Regions from separate parts of the Homo sapiens genome. Here all the other regions are reported to be linked to region 4. The links are microRNA targets in miRTarBase. Many come from high-throughput screens and were not tested one by one. Region 4 holds a microRNA gene; each other region holds the end of a gene's coding sequence.

What was found. The annotated mature microRNA hsa-miR-4729 reads UCAUUUAUCUGUUGGGAAGCUA and lies in region 4 at 1,364-1,385, shown strand. An mRNA with a match to its seed (bases 2 to 7 or 8) in the 3' UTR can be bound and repressed. Matches are read on the target gene's strand: a 7mer-m8 pairs with bases 2 to 8, a 7mer-A1 pairs with bases 2 to 7 and ends in A, and an 8mer does both.
Region 1: the mRNA of SLC39A14 is a reported target of hsa-miR-4729. Seed matches in the 3' UTR shown: 7mer-A1 at 2,485-2,491 and 7mer-m8 at 646-652.
Region 2: miRTarBase lists TGFBRAP1 as a target of hsa-miR-4729. Seed matches in the 3' UTR shown: 8mer at 2,534-2,541.
Region 3: miRTarBase lists STPG1 as a target of hsa-miR-4729. The part of its 3' UTR that is shown has no 7-base or 8-base seed match.

Annotation. Positions count from the first base shown.
Region 1 is chr8:22,419,142-22,423,358 of GRCh38, reverse strand. It overlaps SLC39A14 (solute carrier family 39 member 14), which reads right to left. Exons shown (of 9, transcript NM_001128431.4): 9 at 623-3,807. The coding sequence ends at 3,661. Among named protein-coding and RNA genes, the nearest start is that of PPP3CC, 20 kb to the left of the region's middle.
Region 2 is chr2:105,264,060-105,268,276 of GRCh38, reverse strand. It overlaps TGFBRAP1 (transforming growth factor beta receptor associated protein 1), which reads left to right. Exons shown (of 12, transcript NM_004257.6): 12 at 718-3,863. The coding sequence ends at 894. Among named protein-coding and RNA genes, the nearest start is that of GPR45, 24 kb to the right of the region's middle.
Region 3 is chr1:24,354,763-24,358,979 of GRCh38, forward strand. It overlaps STPG1 (sperm tail PG-rich repeat containing 1), which reads right to left. Exons shown (of 9, transcript NM_001199013.2): 9 at 2,237-3,857. The coding sequence ends at 3,781. GRHL3 (grainyhead like transcription factor 3) reads left to right here. Exons shown (of 16, transcript NM_198173.3): 16 at 1-556. Among named protein-coding and RNA genes, the nearest start is that of GRHL3-AS1, 35 kb to the left of the region's middle.
Region 4 is chr17:59,364,729-59,368,728 of GRCh38, forward strand. It overlaps MIR4729 (microRNA 4729), which reads left to right and starts at 1,355; the gene lies at 1,355-1,426. All of the region lies in intron 2 of YPEL2 (yippee like 2), which reads left to right. RefSeq lists enhancers at 924-1,693, 1,694-2,463 and a silencer at 3,020-3,314.

The DNA.
Region 1 (4,217 bases), not on the chromosome of region 4:
GTCTCAAAAAAAAAAAAACAAAACAACAACAACAACAAAATTCAAAAATTAGCTGGGCATGGTACTACATGCCTGTAGTCCAAGCTACTTAGGAAGCTGAGGCATGAGAATCGCTTGAACCCAGGAAGCGGAGGCTGCAGTGAACCGAGATCGTGCCAATGCATTCCAGCCTGGGTGACAGAGTGAGACTGTCTCAAAGAAAGAAAAGAGAAGAGAGTACAAAAGTTTCCTTCTTGGCCTGGCACAATGACTCAAGCCTGTAATCCCAAGACTTTGGGAGGCCAAGGCGGGCAGATCACCTGAGGTCAGGAGTTCGAGACCAGCCTGGACAACATGGCGAAACCCCATCTCTACTAAAAATACAAAATTTAGCCAGGCGTGGTGGCGGGCACCTGTAATCCCAGCTACTCGGGAGGCTGAGGCAGGAGAATCGCTTGAACCCAGGAGGTGGAGGTTGCAGTGAGCCGAGATCGCACCACTGCACTCCAGCCTGGGCGACAAGAGCAAAACTCTGTCTCAATAACAACAACAAAAAAAACCTTCTAAAATCCCAGTCAAATGTTAAACCAGACCTGGTAAAACAAAACTTTGTACGTCAGTGAGACACCATCGCCACCTTGTGTTCAACAGCCTTCATTACATCCACATTTATTGCAAATGATCACCCGTGGGATTCTCAACAATTACAGAATATAGCTTTATTTATAGAATCTTACAAATAAAACATTTACAGTCCACATAAGTTAATTTTCTTTTCTAATTTCTTCTCATACACCTGAGTTATTTAAAAAAATACTGTGATGGAACTGCAGAACTGTAAAGGGAAATAAGAACAATAAAATCCTAACCTCTCTTGCAAAAATCAGACAACTTTGTTTTAAAGTAGATGCCCAGCATATTGCCATCTCTTTGGAAGAGGACTTACTATACTCAGCTCTTACGCTACCCAAACAGAGAAGCCTTCTTTTTAAAACCCAAGGTTAAGGACCAGTGAAGAATAGCTCCAATTTGACACTAGACACAAAATACCTTTGGGGGCAAAGACAGGGGCAAGCTGTGTGCCGGTGGTGAAGTGAGAAGGAGCAGAACCCCTGTCCCTGCCTCACTGTTCCTGCACGTGACATACACTTTCCTTGCTAACTTATTAATAGGAGCTGGTGCATCTGGAAAATGAGGTCGAAGCTGCTAATGCCAGGGGTGAAAAAGTCCTCCCACTGACTTGCTACTCCTTAGACTTCTAATATGTACAAATGCTTGAAACAGCAAATTCAACAACTAAAAATCAAAAGAAATTGCCAATTTTTGACTCATGAGGCAAAGCTGTTGCCACAATCAGTGGCGACTCAAGTCAGACGATGTGAGCGTCTCCGCCCCTCCTAAGCTCCGACTAGGACTGACCTCTGCGCCAACTACGGTTTAAAGAGGATTTCCCTTTGAGGCAGCTGTCTATGGAAGGAAATTTCTTAAGGTAATATAGGTGTGCACAAAAAGGGAAAACACCCTATTTCATTTTTCAATTTGTTAAAGATTATAGTTTTGAGCTCCTCTCCTAAACTAGAAATCCACTAACTCTAACTTAGTATTCTACTCCAAGACAAAGGGTATTATGTTTAAGGAATGATAGGATCTATTGGGAATGCTAAAATTATAAATTTAATACATCAATGCGAGTTAGGTTAAAGCAAAATCTTCCAGAGTCTTCAACTTTGAGTTATTTTCTGCTAGCTCCTGAAAGCAGCTTGAGAAAAATAAAACAGAAAAGACAAAGAACCGTTTAAAAACAACAATAATAATGACAATATAAAAAGTTAGATTCCAACATTCAAGGAATTGGTTCTTTGGTAAAACTGGACCATAATCCCACCAGGAAATCAGTCCTGATATTTAATCTAGAATCTCCATCACTGAAATTTTCCCTCTTCAGCGTATTCTCAAATGTATTGAAGCCAACAGGCAAGATAAAAACAAAACTTAAAAAAAGTATCACCAGCAGTTTTTCCTGCTCACGTTCTTTTCAAGAATATTCCTGGTTTGACAGATGTCTCCCAAGAAGAGAAAACAAAACGGATGCTGCTTGTGATTACTGAGAGCGGACAGTTTTTCTATGTAAGAGAAAAGCTCAGGCATTGGTAGTGAACCAGTACTCCTGTCAGCCATGCACATGAATCAGTTTGCAAACATGGCCCCTGGGCTCCAACTGTGGGCACCACTAAGAAAGGCTTCTGGAGAGACAGGCTCCCCAAAGTGGCTAAAGAATCTCACATTATCAATATGATAATAATAAATCAATTCACCTAGTGAACCTGGAGAAGAGCTCCCCTTGAAGCCAGAGCTCGGAGGCAAGGGCTCCACAGTGGCTAAGGCTGGCCTACAGTTTTAAAGACAAGTTATCTCCATCCATTTTCTGGAGAGAGTTAGAGAAATTCATATTCAATTCAATGCAGGATTCGACTTTTTTTGCAAGGAAGCAGTAACCTAGACGGGTCATTTAAAACCCATCTGTAGCATAATCATTAGGCCAACCATTCTGCAAACATCTGCGATGCCCTAAGTGAAGTTTGTGCCCTTACATTTCAGAGACCCCCTATTAGTCATGCTTTGATTTATGGAAGCGGCAAATCCTAAATTTTGCCTGCACTGATTCCATTTCTGATTACCCTTGTCTAAGTAGAGCATAAATGGCACCCCATTTCTACAAGTCAGCTTGCCACTCTGCAGACGTCTCAACCTGGGGGAGGATAGTTTGTGCAGTCTCCCCTCTAACACAGAGGTCTCAAATGTGCTCAGAATGTGCTTCTAGGAGGCAGCTACAAAGTCTCTTAGAAGATGGCAGTGGGGAAGAGGAGGTCAAAATCACAGCCAAACCAACTGTTTTCTTGCAGACAGCCTGAGCCTCCATTCTGTCAGCGTTAACCTGAAAGAGGAGGTCCAGGCAGCCACACCGCCACGTTAGCTCACTCGGACAGCCGTGAAACACCAGGTGCTGTTACAAAATCAATATCCAGCATCTCAGTAGGAACAAGTGAGCATCCTGACAAGACACACAGCAGTGGTTCGACTTCCTCTCCCATTCAGGATGAACCTTGCCTCACCTCTCACCCTGCTCATGTGTTCTGACTTCAGGTTCTCTTTGAGAGAAGTAATAGGCAATTAAACAGACTTTGAAAAAATGGGAAGGCTTCCTGTCTCCTGTCTCTTCTATTGGCCAGCTGGAGGTCCAAGGTGCCCAGCTAGAGTCATGGGCCCCACACTATGGATTCAACTCTTGATATTTCTAGCCAAGTTATAACCATTGGCTCTATTTTTGCATTGTTGGGTAAAGGATTCAAAACCTTTCAGCACTGGTTCCAAGAGGAGGCCAAGGTAATCAGAGAAAAAAGTCAGGCTTGTCTTGTAAGCTGCATTCAGGTTCCAGAGTCACTGAGAGAAAAGGAGGTGAGGAGAGGGCAAGAGGCACTAGCTAGAGACTGGTTACCAGGGCAGCTTATTCCTAGGATACAGCATTTTACAAACGGCTGACATTTGAATGCAGGAATACAGTCTGTGTCAGTTTTTCATAGAACGGCCTCTTCCGTGGTGCATTGTGGATGGTAAGTCCTCGGGCTGGCGATCGGGCAGCCCAGGGCCCGACTTCCAGTCCCACAGGCTCTTGGCAGAGCCCTACCCAATCTGGATCTGTCCTGAATACATGGTGAGGACCACCATGATGGTGAATCCAGTCAGGAGGCCCAGGTTCTGGATGATAAATGGAATCAAGATGCTGCCCTTCCTTTCATCCTCTTGACAGACCTCATTCATCTCAGGGAACTGGGAAAGAAGCAAGAAACAACACAGCTGCAATTCCTTCTTCATCTTGTAAGTCCAGGGCAATTCAGTGATGGAGATATAGATCAGGTTGGTTGACAAAGAAAATTATCAGGGCCAGGTGCAGCGGCTCACTAGAGGTCAGGAGTTCGAGACCAGCCTGACCAACATGGTGAAACCCTGTCTCTACTAAAAACATAAAAATTAGCTGGGCGTGGTGGCGCAGGCCTGTAGTCCCAGCTACTTGGGAGGCTGAGGCAGGAGAATTGCTTGAACCCGGAAGGCAAGGCTGCAGTGAATGGAGATCACACCACTGCACTCCCGCCTGGGCAACAGAGCGAGACTCCATCTCCAAAACAAAACAAAACAAAAAAAGAAAATTAACAATAGCAGGTACCATGTCTTTACAACTG
Region 2 (4,217 bases), not on the chromosome of region 4:
TAAGCCTGCCATGTCGAAGGCATCTAATCCGTGTTTGTGGAATGACTGATGCAACTAAGGAGTGCAGGATGAATCGCTAAGTTGCTGCTTGATCCTGCCAATAGACCAACCTGCCTCGGTTGACACGAGTGAATTGTGTAGAAAAACTTTATAACTTTCAGAACTCAAGTCCTGTTGATCAGACAGGGACCGATGGCATTAAGACTCAGTTTCACCAGTTACCTCTAAGGAAACGGAAGGGTGTCTCCCAGGACCAACCAGGAATATGCCACTTGTTAGCTGTGTAACTTTGACTACATCCCTTATTTGTTTGTGCTTTACTTTTCTTATTTGCAAATGAGAGAACCCTGGAGTTACACTATTATATGGTCTCATTCAGCATTAACATTCATGACTTTCTAACAGGCCTTGCTTGAAATGATCAGAGCCAGAGAATGTTGGAGAGAGGATCTTAAGTAGAAATGCCTCAGCCAGACAAGCAACAATTACTTTTGTGAAATAAGAAAAGCAATTGTGTAACTTTCTTCCTTGTCCAGTTACTAAGGATGGTTTTATTTACACCTTTAGCATTTCATTTCAAGAAGTTGATATTAAAGAAATCCTCATCATAATAATAACCCATGGAGTAATGCATGTCAACTCTGCAAAACTAGAACGTAGCCACTTTAAATATACTTAACACATGACAGCATTCTCAGTCTTGGTTTCTTCTTGCAGATGAAGTTGAAAGGAAGCTCAATCCAACTCTCAGACAAAAAGCTTTGTCAGATATGCCAAAATCCCTTTTGTGAGCCTGTGTTTGTTAGATACCCAAATGGTGGTCTTGTGCACACCCACTGTGCCGCCAGCAGACACACAAACCCCAGCTCATCCAGTCCTGGCACTCGGACTTGAAAAGCTTGGCCCAAGGGTGCGAGGGGAACTCCGAGTTCTTTCTGAGCCTGCTGGACATGAAGAGCAGATGACCACCATGCTCTGTGTCAGCCAGGACGAAGGGAGACATCTGGGTGCCAGGGAGCCTTCCGTCCATACGCAACAAGGACTCCTCGCTGCTGACCAGGCTCTATGAATGTACATGGAATGACCAGGCTCTATGAATGTACATGGAAAACCCCTAAAAATCCCCAAAACAGAAACATACAAGAGTTCACCTGTCCAGGTACATAGTAATCCAAGACAGAGGTCTACTTTGAAAAAAAAAAAAAGGGAGTCTTCCTCATGCAGTCCAGACCCAGGTGGGGGATCCCCCACCACCCCCACACTCCAACCTTTAGACTCATGTTTGCACTGGAAACGTGGCTTCACCATGGCTGGCGACAAAGTCCTCTCTTGCCTGGGTGAGTGGCGAGGGCACAGAGCCTCATGGGGGTCAGCCTTGCCCTCCTGCAGAAACACGTTCTCCATCCACGCCGCTCACTCATGGGCCCATTTCCCAGGGTTACCTCGTGGGCTCTGCCTTTGCCCTCAGAAACGGCTGACCCTGGAGAAGTACCTTTGTTCCTTCTTTCTTCCTCTCCGGCTCTCAGCTCCCAAAAGATTCTGCCTTGTGTACCCAAGCACTCACTCTTGGGTGAACTAATGCTTCTGGCTGCCTAGCAAGTGAAGATCTGTTGAGAAACTGAGAACGCTCCAAGAGAGAAGCTGCTCTCCCCTCCTTGAAGAAGCCGCGGACACGGGAAACCCACGGCGGGCAAGGGCCCAGCTGTGTGCTCCTTTCCTGTCATGGCATCTGCTGATTTGAAACTCCATGACGAACACGTTGAACTAAACATTTTTATTTAAATTTGTATCATGTTCGTAGTTGCTCTCTTGTTGAGAGAGTCATCTGTCCTGTTTGTTAGGGGTATTTTTTCTTGTTAAAATGTATCTCCTGTTGAATACTCGGGAAATTCAAAGGGAAGTGTGGTCAGCACACACTGAGCGTTCTTTTCTGGAGAGGCCGGTTTTAGCCTCGTACCTTTAGCAGGACCGACAGCGGGTGGAAGGGCCCGTGTGCTGGATGGGGGTGTCGCCTCCTGGATGGCACACCCTCCCGAGGACATCCAGACAGGCTGTGTCACCCTCCAGCACTTTATGTGCCTGCTCTGAGGTGTCCTGAACACACAGCAACGGCCTCTCCTTCATCACAGGCCGGGGATTCCTTTTGTGTTTCTGTATAACATCGATGACGAGCTGAAGCTGTTGTCACTTCACTGCCCTCTTTGGAATTTCTTCATTGTGCTGACTGATTCTATTAGGGGCTAACAATAAAGGCAGTCTACCCACTACTATCATGCTTGGGAAACAAGCGTCAGCTTGTACATATGACAAGAGAGGACCCTGAATACACCCTCTCTTCATCAGCCCAAGCCTTACTGAGGTGGGATGAAGACCTCATTCTCTGTTCTTTAAAACATGTTTCGTGAACTAATATTGGTCCATGTATTTTTTGTCCTTTTGGGACTCTAAGTGGGTCAAGAAGCAAAAACATCCATGTGTTGTTTGGGGGGAATTGGCACCATTTTTTCCTGACTATGTTTCAATTAACTAAAGAATAAATGATGAAGAAATTCTCCTTGTAGCACAACTGTATGCTGTGTAAATTGGTGTGAGCTCAAAGCCCAGTCATGTGTTTTACCTGTGGGTGACTCTGTTGTAGAATGGTCATATTACTGCATATGTTATCATGACAACTTGTGAGTTTGAGTTTATATTTCTCAAAGAACAAGTTACCCGTATATGCAACATTGCGCCATTAAAAGCTTATTTCTCTGTACACAAAATGGGTAAAATCTTGAAAAAACTTAGTAATTTCTCATTCCTAACACACAGACAGAGTCTCACTCTGTCACCCAGGCTGGAGTGCAGTGGCGCAATCTCGGCTCACTGCAACCTCCACCTCCTGGGTTCAAGCGATTCTGCTGCCTCAGCCTCCCGAGTAGCTGGGACTACAGGTGCATGCCACCACGCCCAGCTAATTTTTGTATTTTTAGTAGAGACGGGGTTTCACCATGTTGGCCAGGATGGTCTCGGTCTCCTGACCTCGTGATCTGCCTGCCTCGGCCTCCCAAAGTGCTGGGATTACAGGCGTGAGCCACTGCGCCCAGCCAACACTAGTCATTTTTATTTTTTCACTGAACATTGATCAATACTCTAAAATGTTTGTCATCCTTTAGAATAATGGGAATTAAAGTTGAGCAGTTTTCCATCTCTACCAAATCCTTCACCACAAGCAGCATTCTATTACAGTATGAAGAATTGTCTCATATGTTAAAACTGTACTTTTCTCTAACCTTTCTCTCACTCCTACAAGGCCCTTTTCTCAAATCATATTTCTGAGAGAAATGTATGGTTCTTTCTCACAGGCCTGCTGATTTGTAACTGTGCCATCGAATAGAGCAATTAGATCCATCAGACCTTTTTCCCCTCATTAGGTTCAGTGGAACCATTCTGGTTAAAACAGCATGAACTGAACTCAGTTTACATTCATATTCTATGGGCAATACCATTTGGTTTTTGGAACTGTTTATCTGCTGTTCCCTATCAAGTATTAATGTAGGGATGTCACTCAGGCTGCGTTGCACTGGGCTGAGTTCAACTGCGACGCTCTCACTGACGCGTGCTTACATGTGCTTCTCACTTCCGGAGCACAGGCAGGTGGCTGCGGGGTCCCAGCTCTGAATGGATGCCCATGATGCAACTGGGGCAGCCCTTGCTTTTTGCTTGCTCTCCCACAGAAACCTTTGTCCTTGCAACTTTATCCTTTGTCCCGATTGGGTCCCAGATACACAAAATGTACAAATGTAAACTTGCTCATTTTATTAAAATTCTTTTAGTTCTTTGTTCTTTCTGTAATTTTTTAAAATAAAAATTGCCTTGATGGAGTGATGGTTTTCACTCGCACCATACCTAGTCTAAATAAAGAGTTCTAGAATCTGTACCTTCTTGCTTTTCCTAGCACCTACAGAGGACTTGAGTTGCCAACCCCTTAAATTCTGCTATTGTTTTACCAAATTTTAACGTGTCTGCTTCTGAATTTACCCAATGCATATTTTAGGGTGCTCCTTGACATTGGTTGCCATCAGATTAATCATGCACTGAGGAATTCAACCAGGGAGACTTCTGATTACTTCTTATCTACTTTACCTTTTAGCCAGATACTCTTAAATAAGGCTGCACTCTTGGATTTCTAACCCTGAGCATATTCAAAGAACATAACTCTTACAAAATCGTACCTT
Region 3 (4,217 bases), not on the chromosome of region 4:
TACCCAGAAGACTGTTCCCTCCTCCCAAGACCCTTGTCTGCAGTGGTGCTCCTGCAGGCTGCCCGTTAAGATGGTGGCGGCACACGCTCCCTCCCGCAGCACCACGCCAGCTGGTGCGGCCCCCACTCTCTGTCTTCCTTCAACTTCAGACAAAGGATTTCTCAACCTTTGGTCAGTTAACTTGAAAACTCTTGATTTTCAGTGCAAATGACTTTTAAAAGACACTATATTGGAGTCTCTTTCTCAGACTTCCTCAGCGCAGGATGTAAATAGCACTAACGATCGACTGGAACAAAGTGACCGCTGTGTAAAACTACTGCCTTGCCACTCACTGTTGTATACATTTCTTATTTACGATTTTCATTTGTTATATATATATATAAATATACTGTATATATATGCAACATTTTATATTTTTCATGGATATGTTTTTATCATTTCAAAAAATGTGTATTTCACATTTCTTGGACTTTTTTTAGCTGTTATTCAGTGATGCATTTTGTATACTCACGTGGTATTTAGTAATAAAAATCTATCTATGTATTACGTCACATTACTTCACATGCTGCTCTCGTTCCTTTTGGGAGAGTCTGCTGGAAAGAGATGGCTACATTGGTCGGGGCCTCGCTCCTCTTTCTCCCTTCGCTCTGGCTCTGTGCGGAGAACGGGTTGCCCTGGACTTGAAGGATGCTGGGACGTGCAGGGCACCGGTGGAGCAGAGGTGCCCCCTCTGGAAGGCAGCAGATTCCTGATGCCCAGATGTTTGTGTTTGAATGTTACAGCCTCAGGATCATTGACTCTGCAGAGAAAGTCCTGGGAAGGGTGTAGAATGAGCTTGAAGAGGACCTCACAGCTGAGGCCATCAGGCAGCACCCAAGGCTGGGAGCCACATGACCTGAGTCTTGTGCCAGCTCTGCGCCTACTCTCTAGGCCAAGCCACGTTCCCTGCAGCCAGCTCCTACAGCTCACAGAAGCAATTGCAGGTATCTCTTCCCAACTCTGAAGGAGTGTGGTCATGTTGGCACATTGAAATCAGCCATGGTGACAGTCAGAAATTGACAAATGCTACAAATCAAGGCCTTTATTTTCCTTAGAGAACAAATCACAGATTCAGGCTTGCTTTCTTTTCATTTATCTTTTTTTTTTTTTTTTTCTTGCGATGGAGCCTCGCTTTGTCACCCAGGCTGGAGTGCAGTGGCATGATCTTGGCTCACTGCAACCTCCGCCTCCCGGGTTCAAGCGATTCTCCTGCCTCAGCCTCCTGAGTAGCTGGGACTACAGGTGCCTGACACCACGCTTGGCTAATTTTTGTATTTTTAGTAGAGACGGGGTTTCACCATATTGGCCAGGCTGGTCTCGAACTCCTGACCTTGTGATCCACTCGCCTCAGCCTCCCAAAGTGCTGGGATTACAGGCGTGAGCCACTGCACCTGGCCAGTTTTTGTCTCTTTTAGATCAGTTCCTCCATTGCCTCATTTATCTTTTTTTTTGTTTTTTTGAGACGGAGTCTGGCTCTGTCGCCCAGGCTGGAGTGGAGTGGCACGATCTCGACTCGCTGCAAGCTCCGCCTCCCGGGTTCACGCCATTCTGCCTCAGCCTCCTGAGTAGCTGGGATTACACGTGCCCACCACCATGCCCGGCTAATTTTTTGTATTTTTAGTAAAGATGGGGTTTCACCGTGTTAGCCAGGATGGTCTCGATCTCCTGACATCATGATCCACCCACCTCGGCCTCCCAAAGTGCTGGGATTACAGGCGTGAGCCACCGTGTCCGGCCACATTTATCTTTTTTAAGCTGCCAAGTTGAAGTGGGTCTTTCTTCCTTTGGGAGAGCAGACTTACCAGCCACTGCTACCTGTAGCCCTCAGTTTCTTTGGCTATAAAATGCAGGTCATGATCTCTGTTGGTTGTTTGTAATTATCATCTTCAGAGCCTCAGGGCTCACTGGTGGGTCTCCAAGGCCACTACAATGCGAGGAAGGGGCTGCAGCAGTCCCTGCGTACCCTCCCTAACTCCATCACTGCAGCTCTGCTTCTCTCCACTTAAATATTTGGGTTTCTCGTAAACATCTGTCTGAGTAAAACTTTTTTTAAAAAGGTGTGAAAACCATGATCCCTCTAAGAACCTCCCAGCGCTGACAGTCTGTGGTCCTAATTCCCAAGCCCCTACCTAGAGTCAAGGCTATGGGCAGGTGAGTCTCTAGCCTAAGGCACAAAAATTAAGGGGTACCCAAAAGCTCAATAAGCAAGATAAATAAGTTTAATGCAATATTTTTAAAATTAAGGCCCCCCCCCCCAAAAAAAAAATCCATGGTGAACAAAACATCACAGTTTTAAAGACAGGATTCGTATTACTGATGTTTCCTTTTGCCTCGGGTTCCCATTAGGCTTGCCTGCCCCTGTGGGAGGGACCCAGTGGGGCACCCAGAGTTGCTCTGCCCAGGCGAGGCCTCACTGTGGCTGTGACGCACCCTTGATGTCAGAACGAGGTGATGTGTGAAGGTTAAATGACAGAGGAGTGTGGAACCACAGCCATGCTGTAGGTGCTCCAGGTGCTCTGCGTGTACAAAGTTCCCACCTCCTGAACTTCCCACCCAGCTCCCCTCCCAGAGCCAGTTAGGAAGCTGGAAGGTGGCGCTTCTCAACCTACACCTATCATTGGAATCACCTGGGTGGCTCCTGCCTCCCCACTGCCCAGACCCCACCCTGGAGGAGTTAAATCAGCATTTGTGGGTGGGCCCCAGGCCTCAGTACTTTTTAAAGTCCCCAGGTGATTACAGTGTGCAGTCAAGGCTGAGAACCACTTCTCTGGAGAGGCCACAGTTGTACAGGCCTTGGAGGCTTTGTAACCTCTCGGTATCTGGCGGGGTTAATGTACAGAAAGACTAAACAGCGTCAGTCAAAGCCTGCTGGGAGATCAGAAAAGGAGCCTGGCAGCTCCCCACCCACCGCGAATCTGTGCAGCCTCCACCAAAACCACTAGGGCACATTTCTTTTTCCCTCCACATAGAGAGACGAAAGCTATCAGGCCTAGACAGGCCATGTGGACTCCATGGAAGGGCCTGTAAGCCTTGAGAAAATTCAGTCCCGCCAGCAGAGAAAGTCAGGGAAAAGCGCAGCCCCCGGGCCCGGCCACTGCCATTCCAAGATGATCTCCCACTCCAAAGAGAAAAAGGTCTAAAAGGAGTAAAGAGAGGTCTTTCCAAACAGGTGGTCACTTTAGAAAGGAAGCTGTGGACTGGTGGAAAAAGCATCACCTGCCTGCAGGTAGCTTTCGCCCAGTAGACATACCGTAAGTGAGTGAGGTCAGAAAGGGACAAATGAGAAAGGCAGGAGTGAGGGAATGAATGAATGTGTAAATGAATGAAGGAATGAAACAGGGAAGGGTGGGGCTTCCAGGCTTGGCCACCTTCAGGGTGGACTGATCCTCCTTGAAGTCTGCGCTTCAGGAGTCCCTTCAGTCTGCGGCAGGGAGTCGTGCCGGAAGGCAGCCTGGATGGGTGCGTGGGGAAGCAGCCAGGGGGCTCTGTCCACTCCTCCCTTCTGCTCAGGAAGCCACTGGAGTCTGTGGGGCTGGGGTGAAGTCTCCAGGGAGCAATGTCTCCAGCTCAAGACAAAGGCAATGGCAGCAGTCCGGCTAGGATGCCAGGCCAGAGTGGTAGAGCCACCCCCCAAGTTGTCAGCTGCCACACTCATGATCGGTCTCCTCCTGAGGAATGTCCTGGGGACGCTGGGCAGGGTGGGCTGGTGGCTGGAGTTCTCCTTGACCTTGTGTGACATCCCTACAGAACCGGGATCCATTTCTTGTCCTCGTTGTAGAGGAAGGACTGCTTTCCTGGAAGCTCTGGCTTGTACGTAGCTGTGAGGGGACAGAGAGGCGGAGGCATTAAGAGAGAAAAGGCCCATTGCTGCAGTCTCTGGCATTCTACCTCAGAGCTGGAAAGGCCTGGGGACCCCTGTGCCAGCCCCTGTATCTTACACGTGGGGAGACAGAGAGGAAGGAACTGGCCCGAGGTTATTTGGCTCTTAACTGGCCCAGGGGAAGTCAAACTCTGACTTCCTGCCTTCTTTAATTCTTTTCAACTTCTTTAACAGAACAAAATTTACAAAACTATTTTCTATGAAATTCGAAAAGAAATTGAGTAAAGCAATATTCTTAAAGAAGCAAGGTGTTAGCTTCATGGGGTCTTGTTTTGATCTAGTTCAGGGGTTTCCATAA
Region 4 (4,000 bases):
TATTCAGCCTCCCAAGTAGCTGGATTACAGGTGCCTGCCACCACATCGGCTATTTATTTATTTATTTGTTTATTTCATTTTTTGTAGAAGATGGGGTTTCGCCATGTTGGCCAGGCTGATCTCGAACTCCTGACCTCAGGTGATCCACTGGCCTCGGCCTCCCAAAGTGCTGGGATTACGGGTATGAGCCACTGCGCCCATCCGCCTTTGCGTCTTAATGGCCTCACTGGCAAATGGGAATAATAGTAATATTAGATACCTGATAGGATTTTTGTGGAAATTAAATGAGGTTATTGATGTGAAGTTCTTACCACAGGGCCTGGCACGTGATAAGTGCTCAATAAATGTTGGAAGCTAGTGTTATTCTATGAATAGTCACTAAAGAAAACCAAATGGAAAGTGACAGAACTAGGGCCTGGCACCCCAACAAGCCTGGCACTCTTGCTTGTTGCCCTTGTTTTTGGAGAGTCTCAGCAGTTGCCCTTGAGCCCTACAGTTGTCATCTGTCGTCTTTTGAGGCCTCTCCTCATGGAATCGCTTGTTCCTTATCCCAGGGGGACCAGCAGGTCTCAGGAGGTGATGAAATAGCAGCAGCACCTTCCACCACAGCTTTCTGGGGCCTTACCTGCAGGCAGCAGCGAAGCCTCTCTAGAATGTAAATGGAAAAGCCTGTCCCTGCCTCCTTCCCTTTTAGTCTGTCAGGTGGTTACTGTGCCTCTGACCCACCCGAGGACCTCAGTTGGCTGTGACACAGCAGCCCAGGCGGCTGGAAGAGAAGTCCCTGGCCTGGAGAGTGAAGCTGGAGCTGAGAGTTGCTTGTCAGTTTGATTCCTTCTGTGACACTTCGGGTGGGGGGGAATCTTTTGAAAGAAACCACTTTCTTTATCTTGAAAGAACAAAACCAAAAGAGAATCTCTGATAACCTTTGTTTCCAAAGCACTCAGCAAAGCTGCTGAGAGGAGGGTTTGACCTGGTGACCCAGAGTATTATCTCTGGGGTAAGGGCTGCCCAGCCAAGGGGAGCTTTAGCTGTTTCCCTCCTCTCCCTGGCTTATTGCTGGTGGCTGGACAGTGAGTTGGAGGAGGAGGGGGAGAGGAAGAGAGGAGGAGATGGCTCTGCCAGCTGCCGCTAGAAACAACAACATCTAATCAGTCCATAAACTCCCTCCCCTCCAGACTACAGTGATGTCAAGAGGTGGAGCAGGTGGCACTAGTTCTCCCCTCCCCTTTAGCCCCTGACACCTTTGGGTCTTTGAAGGGGTAAATTATGATCATCAAAAGGAAAATTCTCTATCTTTGGGGGCCCAGGAGCTCCTTTTCCTTCTTGTTAGGGTTGGCTCCACCAAGAGCAATTTTCTGTTTCCTCATTTATCTGTTGGGAAGCTAACTGTGACCTTAGCGTCCCAGCAGATAAATGAGGAAACAGAAAAGTGTTTCCTCACCAAAACAAAAAATCCCTGAGCAAACCCTCCTGCAGAGGGCCCTGTCATTTATTCCACATTGTGTGAGCTCCTCTTACGTGTTAGACCCTGGGAATTACAGTGGCAAACAGATGCAAGCTTTGCCTTCACTGAGCCTGTCACACGGTACCCTTTGGTTCCTGGAAGACCCAGCACCTGAAAAAGCGGTTGGTGGCAGCAGCAACAAGGATCTCCTTCCTGAGCCTGGCCCCTAAGGTTATCCGGGGCAGCTGAAAAACCAGCATTTCCATAGTGCTTTCCATTCAGTTTGCCTAATTTTCATGAGAGGCTGAAGTGCCTTTTGTTTCCCTGATGGTCCCTGTCCTCCCCTGCAGAGTCGGCCTGAGCTAGCCCAGCCGAGTCGGGCAGCCCCTTGTTCTCTGATGCATCTTTGGAGGAATGTCTGTATTCTCAGGACCAGGCCTCTCCCCACTGGGTGGGGGCTGCTTTGTTTACATTCCTGACCTTCTGAAAGCTGCCAGCTTTATCCACAGCTGGCCTTTCCCCTTCAGATGCCAAATGTTCCAAACGACAGGTACAACTCTGAGAGGGCCGTTAAGGTTCATGCCAGAAACATTCACCTAGGAAGCCTGAGGAGAGAGGAAGCCAGTGAAACTAGACTTCATGGAGCTTTTTGAAGCTCGAAGCCCCCATATTTCTTGATTCTTCCCGCAGCGGGAGAAAAAAAGAAAAAACACAAAGTGTGTCTGTGTGGGAGGAGAGTTCCTCCCTGTCCATCTCTTTCTCTATAAAAACAAGAGGCCAACCTGCTCTGAGCATCGTGGGGGCAGGTGCTGGGTAAATACACGAGAAAGGAAAGCCAATAAGATAAGGTCTGACAAATCTAGGTCACCCGGCTGCTGCCAGGTACCTGTGTGACTGGCCACCTTGAAACTGACAGGAGGAGTATGGACTTTTGTTCGAGGCTCAGCCTGGCTGATTTCTCATGTCTTTGTTTATTTATTCAGTAAACATTAATTGAGTGCCATTATGTGCCAGGCCATGTGCTAGGTGTTGCAGGTCCCTGTGTGCCTCTGACAGGCAAAATCTCCTCCTGGATCCCAGGCCTGTAACCAGGGCTAAAAAAAGAAATGACTTCATTCAAAAGCCAGTTGGTTCACTAACTTCCAGAGTAGGGGCAGCCAGTCCCTTGGTAGAAGGGAGGGGCTGTTTGCAGTCTTGATTCCCTGTTTTTTGGGCTAGATCCAAAGGTCTGCAAAACTTTTTCTATAAAGGCCAGATAGTATTTTACGCTTTGCTGGACATAGGGTCTCCACTCAAATCTGCAGCCACAGAGAATATATAAACAAATGAGCATGGATGTTTTCCAGAAAAACTTTATTTGCAAAACAGGTGAAAGGCCCAATTAGGCCCTTGGACTGGTTTACTTAACCCTAGGTAAGATGATTAGAATGACTGTTGTGAAATGGGTGTTGGAGAAATAGGTTTCTGTGATTTCAAGAGGAATCTCAAACCAGCATGGTGGCTTGTATGAAGAGTGTAGGGGTTGAGGCACTGTGCTAATTGACAAGGTCTTAATTGACACCCTGGTGAGAATTCTATTCCATAGGCCAGACTTCAGCCCCAGCCGTCTAGCACCCACAGGTTCCCACCATAGGTTACAAGGTGATCAAGCCAGATAGGGCACATAGTTTCCTACAGTGTCATCACTGTAATGGGAAGACAGTGTGGGGCCCTGCTGAGGAGAGTCTGTGGCACCATTTGAAAAGCCTTGAATGAGGGTCAAGCCACCTCTGCTCCAGACCTGGCTTTGTGCTAAATTTTCAGTGTGGCATTGAGCAAGTCACTTAACCTCCCTCATCACCCTGCATATATTAAATCCTACTGTATGAAGCACTGGGGATACAGAAATGGATACAAATACAGAAATGGATGAAATTCTCTTTTTTTTTTGAGACAGAGTCTCACTCTGTTGCCCAGGCTAGAGTACAGAGGCATGATCACAACTCACTGCAGCCACAACTTCCCAGGCTCAGATGATCTTTTCACCTTAGTCTCCTGAGTAGCTGGGACTACAGACATGCGCCACCATGTCCGGCTAATTTTTCTATTTTTTGTAGAGATGAGGTTTCTCCATATTGCCCAGGGTGGTCTAAAATTCCTGGGCTCAAGTGATCAGCCCGCCTTGGCCTGCCAAAGTGCTGGGATTGCAGGCGTGAACCGTGCACTTGCCTGGAATTCTTGCCCTTAAGTAGCTTATGATCTAATGGGGAAGGCAAATAGATAAACAGTGATAAAATGTAGTGAAACACAGTCATTGTTTCACTGTAAGTGATTGTTCCAGATGTTATGAGGGTAAAGAGCAGGATGAATGTTTACTAAGATGAGTGTTTAGAAGCATTTACTAAGTGGACAAGAAGACGAAGACAAGAGGAGTCCATTCTGAGCAGAGACAGAGAAACATGACACGAGGCCAAGTCCAGGGACCACAGGGAAGACAGATGGGGAGTCTGTGCTTTAGGGAAGCAGGTCAGGGTGGATCATGCAAGGCCTAGAAGGCCAAACTAAGGAGTTTAGACA